2 separate regions of the Homo sapiens genome follow, and region 2 is reported to be linked to region 1. The links are microRNA targets in miRTarBase. Many come from high-throughput screens and were not tested one by one. Region 1 holds a microRNA gene; the other region holds the end of a gene's coding sequence.
The links. Region 1 holds the annotated microRNA hsa-miR-148b-3p (UCAGUGCAUCACAGAACUUUGU, at 4,683-4,704, opposite strand). A microRNA usually pairs through its seed, bases 2 to 8, with sites in the 3' UTR of a target mRNA and lowers its output. Matches are read on the target gene's strand: a 7mer-m8 pairs with bases 2 to 8, a 7mer-A1 pairs with bases 2 to 7 and ends in A, and an 8mer does both.

Region 2: the mRNA of LCA5 is a reported target of hsa-miR-148b-3p. Seed matches in the 3' UTR shown: 7mer-m8 at 5,773-5,779.

What each region holds. Positions count from the first base shown.
Region 1 is chr12:54,334,864-54,341,981 of GRCh38, reverse strand. MIR148B (microRNA 148b) reads right to left here and starts at 4,766; the gene lies at 4,668-4,766. It overlaps COPZ1 (coat protein complex I subunit zeta 1), which reads right to left. Exons shown (of 9, transcript NM_016057.3): 2 at 1,367-1,435.
Region 2 is chr6:79,480,945-79,488,062 of GRCh38, forward strand. LCA5 (lebercilin LCA5) reads right to left here. Exons shown (of 8, transcript NM_001122769.3): 8 at 4,047-6,922. The coding sequence ends at 6,060. LOC100506851 (a long non-coding RNA gene) reads left to right here. Exons shown (of 7, transcript XR_001744215.3): 7 at 306-3,425. Among named protein-coding and RNA genes, the nearest start is that of LCA5, 53 kb to the right of the region's middle.

The DNA.
Region 1 (7,118 bases):
TCCAAGACTGTCTGAAGGCAGAAGCCTACCAGCCCTACAGTGAGGCTCTGCAGCTGTCTGCAATCTAGACCTCTCCTAAAACCATTCTCATCAAGTGTTTCCTAGGAGCTACCCCATGTCAGGAAGCAGTGCCAGAGAACACAAAAAACACTAGAAGCACAGAACACTTCCATAGACCCTCACTCACTGTATGAAGCTGAGGAATGGGGAAAGGCTACAAAAACCTCCTCCAAAGAAAGGCAAACCCTGCCCTATGATCTATCTTAGCTTTCTTTTCTGCAAGCTGAAAGAAGCATCCAGCATACCACTGAGCCCATTCCCAGGCTCTCCCTGGCAAAGGGGGCGGAGATGCAGGCTGCTAAATCGCTAGCTCTTTAGGGGCTAATCCGTCGCAGTCAGCTGAAGACCCATGACAGGTCTGGCATTTAGTAACTGGATAACTGTTTCAAAAGGTGTCCTGCATAGTTACATCCAATTACAGGGAGGAACAGCTGGTGAATTCTAAACTAATCTCTACCTGCTGATTGATTTATGCTACGCTCGCCCGGAGTTAATACACCAGGGACAGAAGAAATTTCTACAGGAGGGGGAGAATATGGAGGGAGAGAGGGTGTCCTTTCTTCTTTCTTCCAACAGATCTAAAGTTGGAAACATCACTCTGGGAAAGTCAGGAGGTAACAAGCTTGATGGTGACTATAAACCTAGGAATGGAAACCTGGAACTGCAAGACAATTCTCTGGAAAAACCCAGGCAGGGTGACATGGTATGAGGGAAGGGGACAGGAATGATGGACATGGGCGGACTGCCTCTTAGCATCTACATACTGCTTTGTTAGGAACCAAAGTTTCAAAGCTTTTCCCTGATCTGATGCTGACAACAAAGGAGGTCAAAGTCTGAGGACAGCAAGCAGGGCAGCAGTACAACTAAGGGACAAAAGAAAACAGGTTTTATCTGGAGTAGGCAAGATAAGATGGAAGAATTCAGGCCGGGTGTGGTGGCTCACACCTGTAATCCCAACACTTTGGGAGGCCAAGGCGGGCGAATCATGAGGTCAGGAGTTTGAGACCAGTCTGGCCAACCTGCTGAAACCCTGTCTCTACTAAAGATACAAAAAATTAGCCGGGGGTGGTAGCGCGTGCCTGTAATCCCAGCTACTTGGGAGGCTGAGGCTGCAGTGAGCCAAGGTCACGCCATTGCACTCCAGCCTGGGTGATAAGAGCGAAACTCCATCTCAAAAAAAAAAGATGGAAGTATTCTCAAAATTATACTACTGAGGAACATAAGTTAATAAGGTATCAGTCCCAAGATTCAAATCTCAGAATAAACCTTTGTGCTGTTCCTAAACTAATTCGAAAGGGAATCTCACCTTGGCAAAAAGTCGATCTCCATCATTGTCCAGAATCAGGATGGCTTTGACAGTATACAGGGAAGGTTCCTGAAGAGATACGAACATACCTTCAGTCCTGAAGCCTCCCATCACCACTGGTAAACCAGATACCTTCCCCTAGTCCCACTGGGGCTGCAAGGGGATACAGAGGTACCTCTGTAAGTCCCTTACCTCAACTTGGTCAGATTTTGATATTTCCCATTGAGAAAGACCCAGGGTAAGTAAACTGAATTGACAGAGAAAGCATTTAAACAAAGGATTCCAAAGTACCATCAGAGAAACAGTTTCTCTGACTCACAGGGGGCTTAATCAAGAGAGGTCATGCTGTTATTTCCAAATATTATGGTACAGTTATTTTCCAAATTACCCTCTCCCTTCCTGCTCTCCCATGTACAGGTGGCTATAGAATGTGACCAGATTAATTAAAAGGCACTGAACAAAGCCATTTGAAAATAGGGTTGAATGTCCTAGTATACTTGGAAGTTTCTGCAGTCCGAATGCAGTAGCAATGCAGAAGCATAAAGCAAGCCTTCCCTAAACCACCCACACACTAAGCAGAGGGAAAAGAGCGTTTACACACACACACACACACACACACACACACACACACACACGCACAGGCACACCAGTTCTCAATGCAGCCTAGTAAAACAGCCATCTTCAAAAACTCTCCTATGTTCTCCAATTCTTCCACTATACCTTAACCACTACCACTTAACTTCCAAGGACAAAAGCCAACCTGAATTTTGGGGGAGTTAAGAAGCAGTGAGAAGATGATCTATCTGAGAAACACTCTGGGGCCTAGAGTGAGTGAGCAAGAGGGTAATTTTTTTTCCACTACCAAGAATCAAATAAGGAATCACGGCCTCAGTCTTAATGGTTCTTCTTCAACTGTAAGTATATCACTTGCAAAACCTGTGGTGGTCTGTTGCTCTCCTCTACCACTGCAACTTCAAGGGAGCCAGCTAACTAGGAGAAGGAAAATCGCAGGAGGCTGAGGCAGGAGGATTGCTTAAGGCCAGTTCAAGACCAGCCTGGGAAACACAGGGAGACCCCCCATCTCTACAAAAATAAAAAAAATTAGCCAGGTGTGGTGGCGTGCATCTATAGTCCTAGCTACTCAGGAGGCTGAGGTGATAGGATCTCTTGAGCCCAGGAGTTTAAGACCACGCTGAGCTAGGACTGCGCCACTGCACTCCAGGCTGGGTGACAGAGTGAAACCCCATCTCTAATTGATTGAATAGAAAAAACCAAAAGTGTGGAGAGATAGTGATGTGTGCATGAAAGGTATTTGCAGCCTCACATTCCTTGACTTTCTTTTTTTTTTTTTTTTTTTTAAGAGAAAAGGTGTCACTGTATTGTTCAGGCTGGTCTTGAACTCCTAGGCTCAAACAATCCTCCCACCTAGGCCTCCCAAAGTGCAAGTGTGAGCCACTGCGCCCGACCTACATTCCTTGACTTTCTAATCAACATTACTTACCATTGATATCCCTTGTGCTGAGACAAGGCTGTTGCTTTGCTACCTCTTTCCTGGCCTTATTTAAGAAACCCACAGTCCTCACAGGAGCCAAACACAAAAGTATGTGTTTGACAGATATCCAAGAGTGAGGAGGAAAAAATCATTGCCAAGAACCCAGAAACTGCAGCCTCTACAAACATAAATTGCCTCATGAGGCTTCAGGAGGTTTATGGTTCCATGCAAAGAATCAACCCTGTTTGCGGGGGCAGAGGAGGGCAGTTCAGAATGGAAGTAAAAGGAACCCAGTCTTTTGACAACAAGGTGATGAGGAACATAAGCTTTCCCTACTTGAATTCTTGAGGACTGCAATTTTTGTTTTGTTCGCTGGTTTGTCCCATTTGTCCAGAACAATGCCTGACACATACTAAACTCTCAATATTTGGTGAATAATTCAGAGAATAAAGGAAGTTTGAGAATAAAGTTAAAATACCTTGACGCAGTATGCATCTAAGGGACTACTTATAATTAGACCTCCACATATAAGTGGATTTTCTGATGTGGCCACTTTGGGTGATATTACTACCAACTTTATCCCTCCTCTGATAAACACTCCTTAGAGATGTCCATCCTGTATATATAACACTCTGGAATAAACAAGGCATGAGTAACTCCTCTCTCAAACTAAAGAACTTTGTTGCCTAGTGGAGGGAAGTCCTCTAGAGTCTAGTCTTAAAAGGTCACAAGTAGAAGCAGCTCTCCTAACTCCTAATTCCTCACAGAAAGATCTTCCTGTAAAGCAGGCTCAGTTCTATAACAACTTGGGTCCTCAATTCCAAAAGGGAGACAACAATGGGAATGAGTTTTCTTAATGGAAGAAAAGAAGTCCAAAAGGAACAAAATTTAGACGAAATCATTTTTTCCCACAACCTTTTCCTGGAAATCTTTGGCTCTGTTCCTCTATCCACATTCACAGCAACTTTAGAGAGCTGCCCATTAGTTTAAGCTGGGCATTAACCTGGCATAGGAAACTGGTTCTTGCAGCCATAGAGTTTGGCATCCCTAGAACCCAAAGAAAAGCAAAGCCCTAATGGCCCCCAGCCAACTGGGAGAGTCAGACAATGTCCTTTGTGGCCAACAGGGTGTGAGTGCCTACAACAGCCACACCGGCAAAGAGAGAACATATCCCTGGGTTCTGCTCTTGGTTCTTTTCACTGGCTTCCTAGAAGACATTATCAAAGAAACCCCAAAAATAGAAACATTGGATCTTCCTGGGAAGAATAAAAGACAGGCTAAGGAGGACAAGGATAAAGACTAGATTTGACATAGAGCTTACTGGAGCTCTCAAAAGGGAAAGAAGGCATTACAGAAAAGGCTGGTCATTTCAAACTTCCAAAGGAGGAAGCATACTAAATAAAGCTGAGAATTTAGGCAGGCGCTTAAATGCCGCTTCAATTCTCCATTCTGCTACAGCTGGAGCCAGCAGCTTCTTTACTTCTCCTGCCACCTCCTGACTGCAGCTGGTTCCACTTCAGCCTGGGGCTTTTACCTCTCAGGAGTGGGGAGGGCTATGCCATAAAACTAGCCAGTTTAAAGGCCCCAGAAGTCATTACTGATAATGTAATTTCATTTTAAGTTTTTGCAAAGGGCAAGTTTATAAATAACTCCCAGCTACTGAGAAATGGGCTTCCAGGACAATGGACTAGGCTTGACCTTGTAACACATTAAATGCTGACTGTTGAGAAAGACCTTATCAGCTTAGGGCCACACTGAAAGAATTTAAAAGGTCTATTCTTCCCTCCCACTCCCAAAATGGGTAGCTGCTAGAAAGCTTTCGAGACAAAGTTCTGTGATGCACTGACTTTCAGAGAGCCACAGCCTGAGTGTATAACAGAACTTCACCTCAAATGCTAATCGTGCTTGGAAATGATGTATAGGCAGATTGTTTTGTGGGAGATTGGGTGACTTAGACAGATTTTCATGTATTTATGTTTTTATTATCAAGAAAACAAGAATGCTGTCCTCAAGACAGGTGAAACACCACAGAACAAGCAACTAGGCTGCTGCAAATGAATCTTTGATCTCAGGGGCTTCTTTTTTTTTTTTTTTTTTTTTTTTTGCGACAGTCTCTCTCTGTCACCCAGGCTGGAGTGCAGTGGAGCAAACTCCGCTCACTACAACCTCCACCTCCCGGATTCAAGTGATTCTTGTGCCTCAGCCTCCCGGGTAGCTGGGACTACAGGCACACACCCCCATGCCCAGCTAATTTTTGTATTTTTAGTAGAGACGGGGTTTCACCAAATTGGCCAGGCTGGTCTCGAACTCCTGACCTCATGATCTGCCTGCCTCGGCCTCCCAAAGTGCTGGGATTACAGGCGTGAGCCACCGTGCCCGGCCTCAATCAGGGGCTTCTAAAGCCTGGTGAAAAGCATCAACATCTCCAAGAACTCTCTCCCCTAGCGCATAGAGGACTAGAGGGAAAGAGTCATTCCTAGTGCTGCCCCCTGTGGGCCTTCTCGGTGACCTGCAGCTTCCACAGGATTACAGTCATAAGCAAAAATATTTTTCAAAGGCAGCTCTGGATAAGAGCTTTTTTTTTTTTGAGACGGAGTCTCGCTCTGTCGCCCAGGCTGGAGTGCAGTGGCACGATCTCAGCTCACTGCAAGCTCCGCCTCCTGGTTCAAGCTCTCCTGCTTCAGCCTCCCGAGTAGCTGGGACTACACGCACCTGCCACCATGCCCGGCTAATTTTTTGTATTTTTAGTAGGGATGGGGTTTCACTGTAGCCAGGATGGTCTCAATCTCCTGACCTCGTGATCCGCCCGCCTCGGCCTCCCAAAGTGCTGGGATTACAGGCGTGAGCCACCGCACCCGGCAAAAGCTCTCTATTTGTGTGTCTTGTAGGACAAACTAGTAGAGATGGGCCCTGAAAAATAAGTGAATTAAGTCTGTTCACAATGTATATAGTAAGAGAACTCTTTGGGGTAAGATCTTAGTAAGCCACCAGAAGACTGGGAGAATATGTTTGGGGAAGGTAGAGAGGATACTTGGAAACTATAATGAATTATTTGATTCATTTAGGGGAAAAAACCAAGAAGCCTCTATGGAGGGAATTACAGGATGCCATCTACAGAGCTGAAAGAGCACAAATAAGAATATGGAGGCCAGGCGCAGTGGCTCATGCCTGTAATCCTAGCACTTTTGGAAGCTGAGGCAGGAGATCACTAGAGCCAGGAGTTCAAGACCAACCTGGGCAACACAGTGAGACCCTGTCTCTGCAAGAACTTAAAAAAAACAAAAATTAGCCAGGCATGGTGGCATGCACCTGTAGTCTCAGCTACTCAGGAAGCTGAGGCAGGAGGATCGCTTGAGCTTGGGAGTTCAAGGCTGTAGTGAGCTACAATTGCGCTACTGCACTCCAGCCTACACAAAAGAGTGAGACCGCCTCAAAAAAAAAAAGAAGCTGACTGAGATCACTAAAAAGTTCTTCATTGTCTACTTAAAAATAAATCCTTCCAGCCTGGCCAACATGGTGAAACCCTGTCTCTACCAAAATTACAAAACTTAGCCAGGCATGGTAGCAGACGCCTGTAATCCCAGCTACTCAGGAGGCTGAGGCAGGAGAATCGCTTATACCTGGGAGGCAGAGGTTGCGGTGAGCTGAGATCGCACCACTGCACTCCAGCCTGGGCGACAGAGCAAGACTTCAGATCAAAAAAAAAAAAAACATTCCCTAAGGCCATACCAAAAGGGCCTGATGTGGCATTACCCTGATGTGGCAATGGGTCTTGGTGAATTAAAAACTGTAACAAGATTCTCTTGTCTCAATCCTGTTTATAAAGTAAAACTAAGAAGGTAAAAACTAGAAGGAGAAATTCCTAGATACCACTCCCAGCTCCAAATGGCTAAGTAGGTATACTTCCTGACTCTGTGCCAACACTTTTTTTTTTTTTTTTTTGACAGAGTTTCACTTTGTTTCACTTTGTTGTCCAGGCTGGGGTGCAGTGGCACAATCTTGGCTCACTGCAACCTCCGCCTCCTGGGTTCCAGCAATTCTCGTGTCTCAGCCTCCTCAGTAGCTGGGATTACAGGTGACTGCCACCATGCCCAGCTGATTTTTTTTATTTTAGTAGAGATGGAGTTTCACCATCTTGCCCAGGCTGGTCCTGAACTCCTGAACTCAGGCAATCTGCCTGTCTCGGCCTCCCAACATGCTAATATTACAGGTGTGAGCCACTGCACCTGGCCTCTGTGCCAACTTTTATTTATTTTTTTA
Region 2 (7,118 bases), not on the chromosome of region 1:
TTAAATAAACCTTTTTTTCTAGGTGTACTTAGTTTTCAGTAGCTGTGATTGCCTATATAAAAAACTCTTGGGTTCTTTGTATCAGGGTTAAAAAAAAAATCTGACATCTATAATGTCCTGTTACAGACTACACAAAAAGTATGCATAACCAGGATCAATATCAACTGGGACCAGAAATTTGAAATTTGGTATTCAGGTCAGTTAAAGAGAGAAGAAAGACAGTCACCATTGGCCATGGTAGTTAAGGAATCCCCGTAGTTCTACTGGCAGGGAGACCATCCTGAATTCTAATGCTCTGCTTTCAGAACACAGTCTGGGTTCCTGATTTGTATCTGTTACCCTTCATGGAAATGGCTGGTGAAGCAAAACTATGTGTGTAAAACTGCATCTGCCACAGGCTGCTTGTCCACAAAAGCAGCAAAGCATCTCTATGGAATACCTCCGTATGGATCTGTAAAGAAGAGTCCCACTTCAGTCAAAGACAGTAGATTATGAGGTAAGATAACACGTGTAGTTTTTAAGATTCCATACTGACAAGCTTCTGTTGTTTTAAAAAAAAGTTTTGGGTGTTGATACAGAAATTAATGCTAAATAGATAATGATCTCCCTCTAATGACATGCTTCATCATGTTACTTATTCTCTTCTCTCAAAAATACACGATGTCATTTAATCTTCACAATAATCTTGTAAGATAGGATCAGCTCTATTTCACTTCTGGAAGATGTTAAGAAAAGTTAATTATTTGACAAAAGTTGTAATTAGCAATTGGCAAACACTCCAACCCAACTTCTGACTCCAAAGTCAGTGTTTTTACTATTCTACTCTGGCTGCTGAGTTCTAATTTTTATTTTGTCTTAGATGAGGTAGATAGAATATAATCACTTATATATGGATATGTATCTCAAAAATGTAGCATTTAGTATGGAAAATACATATTTGGGTCTCTAAGTCTTTCTATGAATTCTAAAATGTAGATGTCATATCCATCTTACCTACTGTAGCTGATAAATCGTTCACCCTTTAATAATCAATGAACTTCACAGTGCAACCCCATCATATCTTATTAGAGAAATGCCTCGTTCCTGGGAATAAGGAGTGCTGAACAAGTAACCAACTTTTAATGTTTATTCCCTATTATTTTTATTCCATATTATTTTTTGATTAAAATTTTTAATAAAAAAAGAATATTTTTTGTATGTCAAAAATTCCTTCATCAGGGGAAACATGCCTCCTCCATTCCACAAAAATCCTGTTCATTCCATGAAGTAGGTAAGAGTAGGGATCCATCCTTTCCCTGCACAAGACCACCAACCTTAATGCTGAGCACACAGCATTCCTTGGGCCAATCAGACTTCTGCCAGACTAGACTTTCTTTTTGCAGGGGGTGGGAGAAGGGGCATGCCAGATGAAGGAATGATGTGGGTTCAAGGCTACCAACTGTAACAACTGCAATATTATCAAATGTAAAGTTTCTCTGAAAATGAGACCCAGCAGTGGACAAAGTAAGTACTATTATTCGAACCTCCAGATCCAACCACACATTATTAAGCTTTCTGGTTTTGAGACAAAAGTAATTTCCTTATTTTGCTTAAGCTTGTTTGATTTGGGTTTCTGTTACCACTTAAAGAGTCTAGGCTGGGCACAGTGGCTCATGCCTGTAATCCCAGTACTTTGGGAGGCCGAGGCAGGTGGATCACCTGAGGTCAGGAGACGGAGACCAGCCTGGCCAACATGGTGAAACCCTGTCTCTACTAAAAACACACAAAAAAATTAGCTGGGCGTGGTGGCAGGTGCCTGTAATCCTAGCTACTTGGGAGGCTGAGGCAGGACAATCGCTCGAACCCGGGAGGCAGAGGTTGCAGTGAGCCGAGACCGTGCCATCACACGCCAGCCTGGGGGACAAGAGCGAGATTTCATCTCAAAAAAAAAAAAAAGTACTAAAACAAAACTCTTTCTAAAATATTTCTTTAGATTTCTCATATTGAGGCTACTGAATGTAATCTACTACCTGTGTAATCTCATGGGTAACCTATAACATATATCACAATCTATTAGCTGTAACTGAAAATGGGAATAACAGTACTTATTTGGAAAAACTTTGTGAGGAATAAAGCACATAAAAATGCCAACTGCCATGTCTGGCATTCAGCAAAAATAATTGCTCTCCACAATTATTGTCTTTCCAAAACAACAATAGCAGCTAACGTCCGAGTGCTTCTGGTTCTAAGCAGTTTTTCTTGTATTAATTTCGAGTTAATTAGGTTAGATTACTGTGAGGTAGGCACTCTAATTAGCCCTGTTTTATAAAGAAGAAAACAAAGGTGCAGAGAGGTGTTGTCACTTATCCAAGGATACACACAGACATTAAGGGACAGCTGAGGTATGAATTACCTATCACATTATGCAACCCAAAAGTTCCGTGGGTTTGAAAGTTTCTGGATTTTGTTCTCTCTTTGCTGTGAAGCTGTTAACTCCCCTCTCCTTCTTATGTCACTGAACCCGTCTTTAGAAAATCCTTTCAAAGTTTAGTTTTTTTACTCTTCTGTGGGTTAGGAAACAAACTCATCATTCTTACTGCAAATTTATTGATTTATTATTACTTTTAAGTTCCAGGATACATGTGAAGAATGTGAAGATTTGTTACATAGGTATATGTGTGTTATGGTGGTTTGCTGCACCCACCTACTGACTTATCTTCTAAGCTCCTTCTCCTCATCCCCGACCCCTCAACAGGCCCGTGTGTGTTGTTCCCCTCCCAAATTTAATACTGAATAAAGTAAGGAGAGTTCTAAGTGCAGATAAAAAAGACATAATGTATTTAGTACAGAGGTTTTAAGATAATTTGGAGGTTTAAAAGCTTTTTCTGCTTATGTCTTGTGCAAAGTATAGCATTAATGTATTACACATTCATACCTGTATTCTATTTGTTCATTCTTTTTTCCCTACAAGAAACTCATAGTTAGCCATGGTAATAGCAGCTAATGTTTACCGAGTGCTTATAATGTGCCAGGCACCTGCCAAGCATAAACCTAAGTATTTCATTTACTCATAACCACCATAAGAAGTACTATTAAAGACCAATAACAGCTGAGCAAGCTGTGGTCCAAGGACACACAGGGAACAGTGGGAGGGCAGGGATGGAACCTCATGCAGTCTGGCTCACTGTGCTCTTCATCCACTTTGTGAAGACAGGGGCCTGTCTGGTTTACTCTCCACGCTCTCCTGCCATCTAACACAGTCTAGGGCATCCAGAAAGTACTAGTGGTTAATTTTTTAAAATTCTCCTGAATAGACTCGCTTGAACCTGGGAGGCAGAGGTTGCAGTGAGCCAAGATTGCGCCACTGCACTCCAGCCTGGGCGACGGAGTGAGACTGTCTCAAAAACAAAAAAAAAAAAAAAAAAAAAAAAACAACACCCAAAAAACAAAAGAAACAAACAAACAAAAAACTCCTAAATAAAAGGAGAGCAATTTCAAGTGATATAAAAGGAGACTTTAACATAAGAAAGTTTTGTGTAGAAGGGGAAAAACTTTTTAAGGCAGATTCGTTGCAATTTATGGTAACTTCTTTAATCCTAAAAAAATCCGTATTATCCCATAATACAAATTTCCCTTCCCCTTTTCATCAGGCAGATTTACATGCTCTATCCAACTAACAACTAGTCGGGGATACCAGAAGCCGAGTATCTCAGAAAATGAGGTGGAAGAGGATAATCAGAAAAATGGCAAGTCAGCCATGGAATAAATTTGTGTTTATTTCACAATTCAATTTAATCCTCTTTACCCTCATCTTTTTTTAAAAAAAAAAATTATGAGCAATATGTGCCATTACGATAGCCATTAAGGGTGAAAGGATTAATTAAAACTATAATTATCTGATAAGACTAGCGTACTGTCTAACCTGATTTAGAGAAAATTCATCTACTTCAACTAAAAATACTCAACATAAAAAAAGGTATAATGAAACAAAAATTAACCCTGCAGGGCCTGTTTCTATTACATATTTTCTAAGTAGCCTCAGGTATCACTTAAATAAAGAGTCATAGTGCATTTTTAATTTTTATTAGTAACAGTTCTGAGTACAAATAAATTTAATGACATTTAGAAAAAAAAACAATTTACCCTGTAAGGTTTGTTCATAAGGAAAACCCTGTTTTGTACATTTTAATCTCCAATTTTAATGCTTAATATCATAATGCCTTTAAATCTGTAACTTAACTTTAGGTTTAATTTTAATAATTCTGTCTTGTTGCATCTTGTTAAAGAGATTATCAGGTAGAAAAAAAGCAAAAAACTAATTTAAATGACGTGAATAAAAAACTTAACTAAAAAGTTTTAAAAGCCTTTAAAACAACCTGAAAATTAGAATACTTTTGGCAGAAAAATTAGCAGCTAGGAACAAAATTAACATTACATAATATTTTACCAATAACTGCATTACAAATAATATTGTTTTACATATATTAGAATGATTTGCAACATATTATAGTAAATGGTTATACATATCAGACATACAAATCTATTAAGAAAACTTTTTAATATAGTTTAGCACTTTTGAGAGATTCTGTTCCCAATAAATGAAAGGAACACAATTTAGAAGATGACAGGTGGTACATCTTTTAATTGGAGACCTAACCAGGTAAGTCTTGACAAATAGTCATGCAATGAAATTCAATAATATGCATTTATAAGAACTCAGAATAACACAGTAACTCCTTCCCCTCATCAGTATATATGACTGGCGTCAGAAATCATACTACGAGCAAATGCTAGTAAATTCTTGAAAAAAACAGCTCACTTTAGAATAAGTGCCAATCTAAATTTTTTATTCTTCCCAACACACTATTTCCACCACTCTTCATTTTAACAATGTTTTCTCCTTGGGCTGGTGGTATATTACTGCTTTTTAAAGACCAATCATACCCAGCATGATCCAAGGTCATCAACTTCTCTATAAGCTGAAGTGAATTACAAACAGCCAAAAGACCAATGCATTTAAACAGAAAACTATCCACTCTAGTCAACAAGGCAGAAGTCCTATGTCTGAAACACTTCTATTCAAAGTTGCTTTAAAACTAATCCTGTAAGTCCAATAGTATTACACTATTGTTGTCTCCTTGGTTTGAGGACAAGTTCAAATCTTAAAAGCATTAACATTGCCAAATTATATTACTCTGGACATAATTGAACTGAAGATCTTTCTATAATATATTGGGATAAAGTTTTTCTATTCTTTGCAGTTGGTATGTATTTCCACTATTCCTTGCATTTGGCATGAAATCTTACACCCAGTCACTGAGATACAAAGAGTGTAGGAGAACAAGGAGAGGAATTACACTGTAGCCAAGCTTCTGCGGGCTATGACAGAGAGCAACTAACTGTCCTTGCAAACAGAGAAATGTCTTCCGAACTCAACATAATATTCTAACAGAATTGTAGGTAAGTGATTTCAGTAAATACTGAAATTGGGAAATGAGTAGTGTTTAGCTGTGGGTACTTTCAGAGGAATGGGAAATCCCAATGTTGTGACTGCTATCACTCAAGAGTAGCTTAGGACTGCCACGTAAGATAGGGACCCCTGGCCCTATCCATAAAGGGAAGGGCTCCTAAGAAGCACTGGTTCTCCACCATCCGGAGCTACACTTCCCAACACAGACTTTCACCCTTAATTTTCATTCAACAATTAGTGGGAAGACTGTATTTAGCACAGTGAGAATATGATTAAAAATAAATACATAAATAGGAATAAAAGTAGAAAAGGAATACCACCTCCAGTGCAGTTAAACTTGCCATAGCACTGGATGAAGAGTTAAAATCTATTTCATTTTTCAAGACATATTTTTATTTTTGGTTTCATTCAAAAAAGCCTCCTTCATTCTTGGCAAACTATCTATGTGGTGTATGTATGATCTACTTCTTTTTAACTGCATTGTATTTAGCTATTAAAAATCATTCCTTAATAAGGACATTTTAGCATTAAAAAGTCTAAATGTTTATAATAAATACTGTATTAAAATATTTCAATATTTACAATTAGAAAAAATGTATACTCTAGTCAGTCATCTCAGTGCTACTTCTTCAATTTCATCTTCTACAGAATCAGCTGCTTTTACTGCTGGTTTATCGTCTGCATGTTTTAATCGGTGCCTATTTGGATTAAAACTTCTTCCTTCACTGAGGAAAAAGCCTTCATCTTCATCATGTTCTTGATCTCTGCTGCCTTTATTCCCAGGGAGAAAATTTAGAGGGTCAATGTCTCCTTTACTGGAAGCCACAGAATTTGGGTCACTGCTTTTGGAGGAAATGGTGCTGCTACCACTGGCACCAAATAACTGTTCCATCAAATTAGCTTTTTTCTCTTTTCTTGTAATTAAATCTACACCATCTTTACTAAGTTTTTCCATACTGTTTCTTTGGAAATCCAAAAAACTACTTTTTTGACTAAATGGATTTGACCTCTCTGATGTTTTTGCAAACGAAGGCACGTAGCTACCAAATGCGAACTCATTAGGGGAGGCTGGACTTCTAACATTTCCTGAATTCTGACCTTCTCCTTTTGGAGTTGAGAAACTGATGTCTTGCAAATGATGCCCATTAAATAATCTCTCTGAGGATTCAGAGAACCTGTATGTTTTGGGGCTTCTCTCTGGGGAGTGTAGTTTTGATTCAAAATCAGGTAACAATGGCAAAACAGGGTATTTTAGATTTCGAGAATCTTGGAGTTCTCTGTCAATTTCATTCAGTTTAGCAAGTAGCATTTCTCTCTTCAGTCTTTCTTCTTCCTCTCCTTGCAATTTATCCATATTCTGAATTGGATACATTCCTAGTTGGTACCTTCCAGTTTCCCACTCTGGCTTTTCTTCTCTTTCCAGTAAAGATGCCTTTTCTTTTTGCTTTTTATCAAGTTCTTCTCTTTCCCATTCTGTATGAAATCAAATTTTTTAAATGGGATTTTGTAACAGTCAATATTTTTAAATAGGAAAACTATCAACTTTCATAAAACCACCATATTTAATTTGGGTATTATAAATCAAGTGAGAAAAGACATCATAAATTTCATTTCTATACTTGATATTCTGGGATTAGAGAATAATATATTTAATACGTATTGCATTTAA